Linked DNA regions of Homo sapiens. Each later gene encodes a partner of the first gene's protein in a complex. Each region holds a gene or a part of one and is shown on either strand. Other genes may lie near its edges.

Evidence for each region.
Region 2: TRAPPC9 (region 1) and TRAPPC12 share a complex: the UniProt entries of both Homo sapiens proteins name them as parts of the multisubunit TRAPP (transport protein particle) complex.

The regions. Positions count from the first base shown.
Region 1 is NC_000008.11:140,433,720-140,440,746, forward strand, and holds part of TRAPPC9 (trafficking protein particle complex subunit 9), read right to left. Parts: intron 5,479-7,027; coding exon 5,333-5,478; intron 1,522-5,332; coding exon 1,393-1,521; intron 1-1,392. UniProt on the Homo sapiens protein: Functions as an activator of NF-kappa-B through increased phosphorylation of the IKK complex. May function in neuronal cells differentiation. May play a role in vesicular transport from endoplasmic reticulum to Golgi.
Region 2 is NC_000002.12:3,417,667-3,424,693, forward strand, and holds part of TRAPPC12 (trafficking protein particle complex subunit 12), read left to right. Parts: intron 1-4,033; exon of another isoform or gene 4,034-4,120; intron 4,121-4,214; coding exon 4,215-4,328; intron 4,329-6,858; coding exon 6,859-6,997; intron 6,998-7,027. UniProt on the Homo sapiens protein: Component of the TRAPP complex, which is involved in endoplasmic reticulum to Golgi apparatus trafficking at a very early stage.

The DNA of each region.
Region 1 (7,027 bases):
GGAAAAAAATCAAAATTTTCTCAATCACAAAAAAGATAAGCCTGAGGCAGAAGAATAGGATCTAGAGGCAAAGAACTTAAGGTTGTTTCACACAGACTTCCTACAACTACATTGAAAGGAAAACCCTAACTTTCCATGACTAAGTAACAAAAGGACCAGAGGCTGCTCCCTTTGACCTTTTCTGCATGGCAGGTGGGAAACTGGCTGTCCGGAACCACTCAGACTGATTGCTGGTGGAGTCTTAGTTTGCAGAGAAGTATAACTTTGTCTACTTTTCATTTGCATAGAAGCATAACTTTGTAACTTCACCTTAGCCTCTGAGTGGCTGCTTTCCGCAACCAATCAGACTAACTGCAGGCTACCACTTCATTTACAAGAGGTGAGCATGAAGTGGCCAATGGGAAACTTCTAGTGGGTATTTAGACCCAAGAAGATTCTGTATCCGTGCCCTTGAGCCCGCTGCTCGGCCCACTCCCACACTGTGGAGTGTACTTTCGTTTTCAATAAATCCCTGCTTTCATTATTTTGTTGCTTCCTTCTTTGTGACCTATGCAACATGATGACTAAATCCTGAGCCATTAAAGGCAGGTTCATTCATCAAGGACCAAAACGTTCATGTTCATTCAGCATTCGTGGGTCTGCTCTACCCAAGAAGTTTTCTCACTCTTCATTGGTTCTACCAAGCATAAGCAAATCAAACAACTCATTGAGAGAATGTCATCAGCCAATAAAATAAGAAACTGCTCCCAGGCCCTGAATCAGCTTATTAAAATTGACCTCTGGGACTAGCTTCTCCTAATACATAAAATTATAAAAAAGACTTAGACACAGAACCTCAAGTCTGTTCTACCAGGAAATTTTACACAAGTATTCCAGAAATCAACCAATCATTCTAACCCATTAGTGGTATTCAGTAAGATTGAAAGTATTCAATAAAATCAGAACAAAATGTCTCATACAAGATTTCTGGGCAGGGCATGGTGGCTCACGCCTGTAATCCCAGCACTTTGGGAGGCCGAGGCGGGTGGATCACGAGGTCAAGCATTCGAGACCAGCCTGGCCAACATAGTGAAACCCCGCCTCTATTAAAAATACAAAAAATTAGCCATGTGTGGTGGCGGGCGCCTGTAATCCCAACTAGTCAGGAGGCTGAGGGAGGAGAATTGCTTGAACCTGGGAGGTGGAGGCTGTGGTGAGCCGAGATTGCGCCACTGCACTCCAGCCCGGGCAACAGTGCAAGACTCTGTCTCAAAAAAAAAAAAAAATTACTGACTCAACAGATTTTACAGTTTATTTAAATATTAGTCCTAACTCAAAGGAAAAAGTAACAAATGAGTCTGCTTTATTTAAAGACTGCAAGTGAGCAGAGGCCGGAAAAAGGGCAGAGCTCACCTGGCCGGTGTCTATTGGCTGCTTCAGCAGGAAGGGTGCTGCCCTGGAACCTCCGAGCTCCACTCTTCCCACCAGTTCCACCAGGATAGTGATAGATGACAGAAGCTGAACACAATCCTTCCAGGGCAGCTGGGCATTAAGAAAACAAAAAACAAAAACCAGAAAACAAAAAACAAAAACCAGCATCATTAGTCAAGTCAGTGACCCTTCATTAGCTCAAACTGCAGTAACTAACAATGATTTAAACAGGTGGATTATTTGGAAATGCCAATTTTTCTCCCAAAACAAAGATCAAACCTAAAGATCACTAGTTTTTTGCAAATGGGAACTTGCCACCTGTCTTTCCCATGCCCATGTCCAGGCAGGCAATGCAGAACACTCTCACCACACTCAAGGTTTCCCTGCAGGGCTGACTGCACACGTAAAACAGGCCAGCCTCTGCGTTCATCCATTCACGTGGCCGGCATTCCTGCACAAACTGTGTGGCAGACTGCGCCAGGTTCTGGAGCTACAGAGATGTATAACAGAAAGTGCCCTGGATTGAAAATATTTCACAGTAATAGCACCAAAGCAAGACCAGAATGCCTTTCCAGACCATGCACCCCATAGGCATCTGCTCCTTTTGAGGTTGTAGTCCTCCCTCTTCCTCAAAAACAGCCATATTAACTCGCTACACAGTCCGTTCTTCTCTCATGACGTAACAACCTAATAATCTCCAGCTATGCCACATGCCTTAGAAGGTGTGCCACAGTATTCATCTCTATCATCTTTATCCATTAACTCAGTGCTCCTTAAACTTTTGGTCTAAAAACTCCTTGATGCTCTTAAAAATGACTTAGGATCACAAAGAGCTTTTTTTGTGATGTGGGTTACACCTGTAGATATTTACCATATTGGAAAATAAAACTGAGAAAAGGATTTAAGTATTTATGTATTAATTCCTCTTAAAATAGGCCAGACGCAGTGGCTCATGCCAGTAATCCCAGCACTTTGGGAAGCCAAGGTGGGTGGATCACTTGAGGTCAGGAGTTCAAGACCAGCCTGGCCAACATGGTGAAACCCTGACTCTACTAAAAATACAAAAATTGGCCAGGCATGATAAAACACACCTGTAGCCCCAGCTACTCGGGAGGCTGAGGCAAGAGAATCGCTTGAACCTGGGAAATGGAAGTTTCAGTGAGCTGAAATCACGCCATTGCACTCCAGCCTGGGCGACAGAGTGAGACTGACTCAAAAAAATAAAAATAAAAAATAAAATAATAAGCTTGTCATGTGTTAACAGTTTTATGAAAAATAATTGTTTTCCAAAACAAAAATAAAGTACTGGAGGAATGGCATTATTTGACATGTTCACACATTTCTTTAATATCAGAGTTAATACAAGTCAGCTGGATCTTCTATCAGCTTCTACATTCAGTCTGCTGTGATGTCAGGCCTAAGTAGCTTGTGGACAACTCCACTGTCCACTTCTGAGAGGCTGAGCATGGAAGAGGCCCACGGCACACAGCACCGTCCTTCTCTGTGTGCCCTTTAGGAGCCCTCCTCATCCAGTCCAGCGCCGCATGGGGAAGGCATATGGGCAGTACCAGTCTTTCTGGAGAAGCACCTGCTGCACATGCCCTAGTCTCAGAGCCCACTGGGAGATGCACAGATTCTCTAATTGATACAATAAGGAGTACTTAGGGAGACAATGCTCTTTCAAGAAAACCAAGTAAAACTATGTCTTTCTCAGCCTGCATAATCCTTTATCTGATTCTCTTTTCTTTTCCATCCCTAATTCTTACTCCCTTTCTTTCCCCACTTCTATTTCCCTAGCCTCTTTAAAAAACTAAATTTAAGTCCATTTTAAGTTTTATTTTGGTTTTTTCTTAAGAGACAAAGTCTCACTCTTGCTCAGGATGGAGTGCAGTGGTGCGATCGTGGCTCACTGCAGCCTTGACCTCCTGAGCCCAAGCGATCCTCCTGCCTCACCCTCACAAGTAGCTGGGACTACAGGCACAGACCACCAAGCCCAGCTAATGTCTTTTTATTTTATTTTATTTTATTTTATTTTGGTAGAAGTGAGGTCTCCCTATGTTGCTCAGGCTGGTCTCCACCCAGTTAATGTTTTTTAATTTTGTTTTGTAGAAGTGAGGTGAAGTAAGATTTTTTTATTTTTTATTTTTTGTAGAAGTGTTGGGATTACAGGCATGAGCCACCATGCCTGGCCGTTTGAAGTATTTCTTATATTTGGCTGGGCACAGTGGCTTATGCCTGTAATCCCAGCACTCTGGGAGGCCAAGGCAGGCATATCAGCTGAGGTCGAGTTCAAGAGCAGCTCGGCCAACATCGCAAAACCCCGTCTCTACTAAAAATAGAAAATTTAGCCGGGTGTGGTAGTGCATGCCTGTAAGTCCCAGCTACTCGGAAGGCTGAGGCAGGAGAATCGCTTGAACCCAGGAGGCGGAGATTGCAGTGAGCCAAGATCATGCCACTGCACTCCAGCCTGGGCAACAGAGCGAGACTCCGTCCCCAAGAACGAAAGAATTTGTTATATTTAATATGTTCTACGGCACCTCGTTAAACTTCTGTTACAGAACTCACCTCATTACTTCATTCCGACTTGTATTATCATAAGTGGCTGACAGGTGTCCTTGCTAAACTGTCAACCTCAACGAAAGAACCCTGTTTTAGTCCTTACCCACACAATGGACTCAGCCAGTCCATCCTCCCAGGACCACCTCCAGGAGGCGCAGTCCCCAAAGGGAAGACCACACACAGACATCCGATTCCACCACGAAGTGTCAGCAACATCTCAGGCAGGGCACCCGCTCTGCCGACTGCTGCGGGGGATCAGAGATGGCTGTGCTTTGAAGTAGGATTTCTTCTTCCCTTTCTTTTAATTTTTAAGATTGACATAGAGTTCACATACCATATAATTCACCCACTTAAAGTGTGCAAGTCAGCAGTTTTTAGTATATTCACAACTGTGCAACCATCACCACTAACTGACTCTGGAACATTTTCATCACCCCAGAAAGAAACCTTATGCCCGTTAACTGTCACTTCCCATTCCCCCTCCTCCCAGCCCCTAGAACCAGTTGTCTACTTTCTGCTTCTATAGATTTGCCTATTCTAGCCACTTCATATATATAGAATCATACAATCTGCGGCCTTTTTCATGCCTGCCTTCTCTCACTTAGCACAAAGTTGTCAAGGTTCATCCGTGCTGCAGTGGTATCACAATTTCACTCCTTTTCATGGCTGAATAATATTCCGCTGTATGCCCATACCACATTTCGTTTATCCATTCATCATGTGACACATGGAGGAGGTTTTGAGGGAGGAGTCTAAGAGGTGAAGATCATGGGGAACGGCATCCAAAGCAGAGGGCAAGGTATACTAAGAACAGAGGAAAAGGGAAAGTGTGGGCAGGGCCTCCTTCAGAGGACGCATGGCAGGGTGGGAGGAGGGCAGCAGATACAGCAGGGAAGCATCCCAGGCCACTGCTCGTGGCAACCAGCACAGGCTGGCTGCTTTTCCTCCCTCATCCCTTCTTTTTGGGGAATTTCTTCTGCCGTTTCCTCTCATTTCTTTTTTTATTTTATTTTATTTTTTTTTGAGATGGAGTCTCGCTCTGTTGCCAGGCTGGAGTGCAGTTGTGCAACCTCTGCTCACTGCAACTTCTGCCTCCTGGTTCAAGAAATTCTGCTGCCTCCGCCTCCCGAGTAGCTGGGACTATAGGCGCGTGCCACCACGCCCAGCTAATTTTTGTATTTTTAGTAGAGACGTGGTTTCACCATGTTGGCCAGGATGGTCTCAATCTCTTGACCTCATATTTGGCCTGCCGTAGCCTCCCAAAGTGCTGGGATTACAGGCGTGAGCCACCGCACCCAGCCTCTCATTTTAATTAACAGTTGAAACAATTACATATCAGATCATCTTCATCAGCTCATCTTACCTCCAAGCCACAGAAAGTCATTCACAGAACGCAGCAGCTCCACCGACATGTGGTAATGCACCAGGGAGTCCTGCAGCATCCCTGCCTGCAGGCACAGGTCCCCCACGTGCTTCCGCATGCGGCCTTGGCACCGCTTCTTGTAATGTCTAGAAAATACATGAAAATGTATCTTTATTACTATACAACTCCCACCCAGAAAGCACTCTGACTAAGCACTATTCAATTCTCTCACTACTAAAAATGCTAAGAAGGCAACTGTAGGCTCTATAATTTTAAGTCAGCAATAATCATTGCCAGTTATGTGAGCTGGAGTGGTCTTAATTTCAAAAATGTACTGCCAAGCAATTTGTTTAAAGGTGATCGGTACGTAAGGACTTCTACCATGTCTTTCACGTAGGCAATGTTACAGTTGGATTTTTCTTTTTAGATTTTCCAGTTGTAACATTAGCATAAGGAAGTTTATGTTTCAGCTTTTTAAAAAAATCAATTATCTTCCACTTCTTAACATCAAACCTCTTATTATTTTATAAAGACAGCTATGCTGAGTCTTATTAGCCAACCATTTGGCTTTAGCAAACAAGACGTTCATCCTCGCTATTTCAGGGCAAGCTTTAGGAAAGCTTCCAGAGAGCAGGGCCTGGGGTGCTCACTAACAGCTCTTTAAATATTGGCAAGGATATACCACTAAATAATGCAAAGGCTTCTGAGTCCCTAATCAACTCAGAAACCAAAGAAACTGTACCAAAGTATTCCTTTTATCATTTTTAAATACATCTAACCTTTAAATGTTATATTTCTTAAGATAGATGATTTTTTTTTTAAAGAAAAACTGCAGCTGGATTAAACTTTCCCTCATCAAGAAAGCAAACTTATCAAGAATAAAACTCCTCTGGAAATCCAGAAGATGTGACGTTTCTAAGTAAATGAATGTTATTGACACATCTCAATACAATGTTAAATCCTATCATGTGTAACTCTAACGAGTTCAACAAACTCTTTGTTACTCTGGAATTTAGCATTTCCATTCTGAATAAGTTTTAAACAAAGATCACAACGTAAGGCAGACGCAGAAAGAAAAAGAAACGCCAGCCTTCGTTTGTCTCCTTCCTGGCCACAAGGCAGTGTCAGGATGGCCCCTGCTAACAGACCCTCCCCATAAGAAAATACAGCATCTAGCAGGGTGCAGTGGCTCACGCCTGTAATCCCAGCACTTTGGGAGACCGAGGCGGGCGGATCACAAGGTCAGGAGATCGAGACCATCCTGGCTAACACGGTGAAACCCCATCTCTACTAAAAATACAAAAAATTAGCCGGGCGTGGTGGCACGCGCCTGTAGTCCCAGCTACTCAGGAGGCTGAGGCAGGAGAATCACTTGAACCCGGGAGGCGGAGGTTGCAGTGAGCCGAGATCATGCCACTGCACTCCAGCCTGGGGGACAGGGTGAGACTCCCAAAAAAAAAAGAAAAGAAAAGAAAGGCATCTGAGCTGCTCTTCCCATCCCAACAGCAGTCACCTCAGCAGCCTCCGCCTAGTCTCTGACTCCTCACCCTGCACCCCCTTCCCCTTCATTGCTTCTATACACACACAGCCAGAGTGTCCTTCCCAAAGCACAAATCAGTCTGTGTCCCTCCCCCACTGCAAACCTTTCACAGGATGCTCAATTCAGTCGTAGGGAGAGGCATGCAGTCCATAGCT
Region 2 (7,027 bases), on another chromosome or scaffold:
TGCAGATTCCGCCAACATTTACTCATCGAACTTCTTTGTTCTTCTTTCCACGAGAATTAAAACCTTAAGTTTCTCATTTTTAAAAATGGTCATTGGCCGGGCGTGATGGCTCACGCCTGTAATCTCAGCACTTTGGGAGGCCGAGGCAGGCAGATCACCGGAGGTCAGGAGCTCGAGACCAGCCTGGCCAACATGGCGAAACCCCATCTCTACTAAAAATACAAACTTTAGCCGGGCGTGGTGGCGGGCGCCTGTAGTCCCAGCTACTCAGGAGGTTGAGGCAAGAGAATCACTTGAACCCAGGAGGCGGAGATTGCAGCGAGTCGAGATCGTGCCACCGCACTCCAGCCTGGGCAATAGAGACTCTGTCTCAAAAAAAAAAAAAAAAAAAAACATTGTCATAGTGGCAGGCACAGTGGCTAATGCCTGTAATCCCATAATCCCAGCACTCTGGGAGGCTGAGGTGAGTAGATCACTTCAGCCCAGAAGTTCAAGACAAGCCTGGGCAACATGGGAAAACCATATCTCTACAAATACTCGCCTGCTTCTGCCACTCTGCACCATCAATATAAATAATAACTAATTCACAATAATCAGTCATGAAAGAATAAAATGGAAAACATGCCAAATGCAGGCCCCTGCTTTGTTATCACTGCATGCCATACACATAAAGTTCTCTGTCACGTGACTACAGGAGCATCTCCATTCCTGTGCCTCGTCCTCAGGTATCAGACGCAAGCCACTCGCGGGCTGAAGTCAGCCCACAGTCCTCCTTGAAGTCAACAGAAATGAACTACTGAGCCACGAGGGGCCTAGACCTGGGATCCGCCAGCGTTTTCTGTAAAAGACCATAGAATAAACATTGTAGACTTCCTGGCCATACAGTATCTGTCCAGCTCCTCAGCTCTGCTGTGAATGCCCAGCTCTTCCATGGTAGCACAGAACCTTATCACCGTGCAGGTGCACACGAGGCTGGGCTCTGGGTTCCTGTGAGCTCTGCCTACCAACTCAGGCAGTAGGGGGTGGGGGGCGTCCAAAGGATGTGCACAGATTGCCAGCACCAGGCCCAGCTGCTGGAACATCCTCATAGCTTTACTCACATCTACACGGACGCCTTAAGTTCACCCCATCAGTGCAGGGAGACAGGGGCCTTCAAATGTGATGACACGACACTGCTGTGGCCTGTGCTCTTGGAAGCCTGCAAAGGCCAGCACACCCGACCCTCCTCTGCCTCACCTCCTGTGCCACCCCATCCTCACCTGCTTCCCCAGCCTCTCCTCATCCACACCTGCTCGGCCCCTCCTCCACCGCCTCCCTCCGGCCCGCTGGTCCTTACTGCATCCCCTCGGGCCCTGCACCCTGCCCTCTGCTCCCTGTGCCCCCCATGCCTGCTCTCGCCTTGTTTTGCACACATTCTGTCCTCTTCTAGGGTCTCCGCCCCCTCCCCTTCCCTGATTAACTCCTGCCTGTCCTCACTGTAGGTCATGTCCTGAGGGAAGAGGGCCCCAGCCTTTCTAGCAGGAAAGGCCAGAGCCTTAGGCCTAGGGAACCAGGAAGGGAGCAGTTATTAGTTGCCCCTGGATACAGAATCTGCCTAGATGCATATATAGAACTGGTTCAGACTTGGCACAATCTCTTTCCCTCTCACTCTTTCACATTTGCAATTCAAAGAGAATATACAGAGCCATTTGTATTATATAAAGTGATTATTGCATTGAATTTAGACTAGAGAAGGCATTTGGAGATCGTTTTAGTAAATTATCGTAACCAATCTAAAAATACTTCTGAACTGTCAACCAGAACACAGAAATCCTGTATTACTTGCTGTAGTCTGGACAGTTTAGGGGAACGTGGCACCGATCTCATCTTCACCGTCGATCAGTGGTTCTCTGACTTGGTCCAGTGGCCGCACACCAGCTAGTGAAGAAAACCACAGACTCCAACTGCACTGTGTACGCTCTGGTGTCCTCATTTCCAAAAAAAAAAAAAAAAAATCTACAAGATAGAGTTTAAGAAATCTCATTTGAGTTGCCCTGCTAATATTTGCAGCTCGCTGGTGGGTGCCGTGGAGGCCAGTACTCACCGTCAGGCTGTGGCAGGTACAGTGAAAGGAAAAACTCCATGAGAGAACGGTGGAAAGTTCACCTGAGAGTGAAACGCATGCCAGTTAGAGTGGCTGAAAAATAGCATGGACAACACCAAGTGCCACGGGACGTGCAGCCGTGGGACCCCTCACTGCTAGGGAAGGCAAGATGGCACGGCCACTTAGGAAGACAGCTTGGCGGCCTCCTACAACACTAAACATACTCTTAGGTACAACCCAGCAATCCAGTTACTGCATTACGCTCCTGGATATTTCACCCAGTTATGCCGAATGCTTATATCCACACAAGAATCTGCCCAAAGATGTTGATACCAGCTTTATCCATAGTTGCCAAAAACTAGAGGCAACCAAGGGGTCCTTCGATAGGTCAGTGGGTAAACACACTGGTAATGTGGACAGTAGGATGTTCAGCATTTAAAAAAAAAACAACTATCAACCCCTCAGAAGACCTGGAGGAAACTGAGATGCCTGCAGCCCAGGGACGGCTGGTGGCTTGCAGCAGGTCACACGGCTACTCAGGCGTAGAGCCTGGCCTGTCTGAAGCTCAAGGCCCAGCACCCGTTCCTTTCCTTACACATAGAGTTTCACTAGGCACGCACACGCTGACTCTGGATTGATGAAGAAACAGTTTGGGAATTTTTAACAGCATCGTTCACATTTTTAATGCCTGCCTCCTGCCTGGCACTGTGCTCAGCACTTTCATGTATCTTCTTTAATTGTCACATCTGTGAGGTGGGACAGATGACCTCAGCTCTGTAAACTCAGCCATTGCTGAGCCTGCAGTGTGAGTGTGAGGCCACATGTCAGAACCCCGGAAGACACAAGCCCCACTCTCCTGCCTTCAACACAGCCCCCCACACCGCCGCTGTGGCTGGAATTGGAGCAGGTCGTTAGCTCCTGCCTGAGGAAGCCCAAATAAAGGACTGCAGAACAACTGTAGTGCAAAGCTGAGACTCATTGCCCTCCTAGGCGTTTCATGAGCAGGTCCTGAGTTCTCTGTGTCCCGGCGTGGAGTGCAGGAGGCGTGGAAAGGGAGTAGTGCGTGTGTGAGTTAGTATACAGAAGAAGTGTGTGGCAGGCTCTACCACACGTTTTTAAAATATGTAAACTCCTAAACTTCTTGTCAGAGAAGCGCTTGGCATGCACACAAAATCATTTAGCTAATTCTTGAGAAACATATTGTTTAATTGTCTGTCTCCCTTGCTAGATCATACCACTAATGAGTGCTCGTTCACTAACCTCCCCGCCAGCCTTGCAGTCTCTGTCAGGCAGGAGGTACTTAAAGCATGTTTATTGACTGGCTGCAGAAATGAGGACATCTACCGTATTCAAAGATAGTGCCCGTTACATTGAGAAAAGACAGAGTGAGCATCCACTTTTAGCTTCTTAAAAGGTTTAAACATTCTGATCTTATTTTCCCATTCATTTGCCTAATGGCTGTCCTTTCTGTATTGCACAAGGGCAAAGATAAACACAAGAGTCTGTACGAATCAGCCAGTGTGTCAGTACCAGCCAGCCTTTCCATGTTGAAGCCGTAACGTTAAGTGATGTGAAAGTATACTGTGCATTGCCACACGGGCCTGGAACATGTTGTGTTCACCCAGTTCATTGATTTTTTCATATTGATAAATTAAAATTATGAACATATAAAGCCAGTTATTTTAGAGTCATATGCAAATCTTACAGATACAAATAAATATGTCCAACACATAGCATAAAATTTCCTTATTGATTTTAAATTGACAGAAATCTTAAGATAATCTTGCTAAAAAGGAAACCAGTCATATAGATTGAGAGATGTGCGGAGCTTTCCAATAAAAAGCCTCTTCCCGATGTTCTATCGGTTGTTGAATTGTAATGTTTTTATGATTTGATCGGCTTGAACTGTACCTCACGCTTGGCTCTCTTATTGCCTAATTACACGTGCAGCGTTGACAAATGGCATGCCCCTCCGTGCCGTCAGCACACTGACGTTGTCACCATTACTAACGGCTGGCTGGCGCTGCTTCCAGCAAGGTGAGCAGCTGTGGCCAGTGGCTATGCGTTTGGGTCATGGATTCCACCATGCCTTGCATGTGTGTTTGGTCACATGTTCTGCCGTGTCTTGCAGAGCTGCAGAAACTGGAGGGCAGCAGTGGACCTGTGCGGACGTCTCCTCACAGCCCACGGCCAGGGCTACGGCAAGAGCGGGCTGCTCACCAGCCACACGACAGATTCACTGCAGGTGAGAACACCTTTCAGGTGCTGGAGTTTAACCTGGCTTATCACAGTCTGGGGACATGGACAGGACCATGGCCTTTCATGCCAATAACAAAAAGTATGTTTTCATATCCTGCTTCTTTCTCTCCTAATTATATTGTATATACTATACTGGGGCACTGGAATTCTCACTTCGGCCCGTCAGGATGCCTGTGCGCCCCAGAAGCACGCTCACAAGTGCCCACACTCAGTCTCATGGTGGAACCGGCATGGCTTTGGGTCAGCAGGTGGGTTCGCCTCACGACTGGCAGTAGCAACTGGCCTGTGCGGGGCTCTGGGGCGTGTCTGGGCCCGGTAGGAAACAGTGACAGGAGCAGTTGGTTCTGTCCACCCCAAGGACGGAGGGTCCATGTGCCATTTGCTCCTCGTGGTATATCACTTGCTCTGAAATTTAAAAAAAAAGAAAAAAGAAAAGGGAATGCACAAAATAGACTTGTGAACAAAAGGAAACTCATCTGAGAAGAAGGAACAGCTGCAAACGTTGATACATTCTTACCTTTCCCTGGGGAGTTTTTTAACTGTTCTTCTAGCTTACATGGGAATCCCCCGGGACTAAACAGATCACCAGATCCTTCAGAACTGTGATGAGCTTTTGAAAGGAGCAGCTCTGGGGAGCCCTGACAGCTTAGCTATTTCCAGCAGGCTCCTTCTCCTTCTTTCTCTTCCCCCAAGAGCCGACAAGAAGAGCCGCTCTAGCTTTAAATGTACTTTCCCCCATCACCTCTCCATCCATTGGTTTGCCAAATCTTAGGCTGTTTTCCTATCATTTCTCTCCAACCCACCACCACCCACAGTTCGAGCTCTCATTGCAGTGTTGCTTTGGCCTCTTTTATGAACTTAGTTCAAGTTTCTTTATTCACATTCATTCCATAAACTACCTCCAAAAAAGCACACTTTTGATCATCTCACTTTCCTGCTGGAAAACTGTGCCCGGCGCAGTGGCGCATTGACTGTAGTCCCAGCTACTGGGGAGACTGAGGCAGGAAGATCACTTGGGCCTGGGGCTTCTGGGCCGTAGTGCACTTTGTTGATCAGGTGTTGGCACTAGCTCAACACCAATATGGTGACCTCCCTAGAGCCAGGAACCACCAGGCTGCCTAAAGAGGGTGAACCACCCTCCTTTCCAACTAGGTCTGAAACGGAGCTAGTCAAGAGCTGGATAGTTTCCCATTGGCTACCATGTGAAATTTCATCTTCTCGTGTTGTATGCAAACCCTCAGACCATGACAGGCTATGTGTACACTATGGAATGGTTAAATCAAGCTAAATCGCATGCATTGCCTCGCATGCCTTTGTGTGTGTGTGTGTGTGTGTGTGTGTGTGTAATGAGAACACTGAAAATCTGTCTTAGCAATTTTTAGTATACATTGTAACTGTGTCACCACGTCTACAATAGATCTCTTGAGCTTATTCCTTGCGTCACTGGATTTTGTTTCCTTTGACTAACATCTCTCAAACCTCCCCTGCCCGGCCCTCCTCCCCACCCCCAGCCCCGGCACCCGCCATCTACTCTGCTTCTGTGAGTTCAGTGTTTTCAGATTCCATGTGTAAGTGAGGTCACACGGTGTTTGTCTTTCTGTGCCTGGCTTGTTTGTCTAACGTCATGTCCCCTAGGCTCATCCACAGCACAAACGACGGGATTTCCTCCATGAAAGCTGAGTGGTATTCCACTGTGCGTCATGCCACGTTCCTTTATCCGTTCATCCTTCAGCGGACACTTAGTGAAATTCATTCTTCTCATCAGTAAAGTCAGATCCAATTAGGTCATTTCTAAGGTACCCTTTTAATCCTAAGTCTCTGGCTCTGCAGCTGTCTAATGCAAATTCCCACCATTTTCCTGAATGTACCCCTGAGAGCACACTGTGCTCTCTCGTATGTTGTGTTTTGTCCACTCTGTACCTTTGTCCTTACGTTCCCTGAACCAGCAGACCCTTCCTTAGCCTGTGGCCCCTTGAAATTCTGCAGCCCTGAGAGCTGCCCTCAAACACAACCCATCCCTGCGCTTCCTCTCCTTCCTGCTCCCGTTCCCGCCGTCATTCCCCCGCCCTCCACTAGGTGGCGCATTCCTTTGGTGCCTTTTCATTTTCATGACACCTAGCACAGTGCTTTGCACACAGACCTGCTCAGTAAGCACTGTTTACTTATTGAGTAAACAATTATGTAAAATCATTCACATTGTTATTAAGCTCAATAGTAATTTCTTCTTAGAGACAGGGTCTCGCTATGTTGCCCAGGCTGGACTCAGACTCCTGGGCTCAAGCAATCTTCCCACCTCAGCCTCCTGAGTAGCTGGAACTGCAGGCATGAGGCATCATGCCCAGCTTCAAGAGTAATTTTTTAAATACGATTGTGTAAATATGCAAAGATAGAAAGTTAGGTTAGCCCTTATTTTAATATATGAGAAATTAACCTCTAACACCAACTCATAAGGAATAGCAAATTCTGAACTGGATATATGTAGATAACCTATTGTTTCCATTGTATTTTGTTTTTAGCTCTGGTTTGTCAGGCTGGCACTACTAGTGAAGTTGGGCCTTTTCCAGAATGCTGAGATGGAATTTGAACCCTTCGGAAATCTTGATCAGCCAGATCTTTATTACGAGTACTACCCGCACGTGTACCCTGGGCGCAGGGGTAAGGCCATGGTATTTAATATTTGTACAT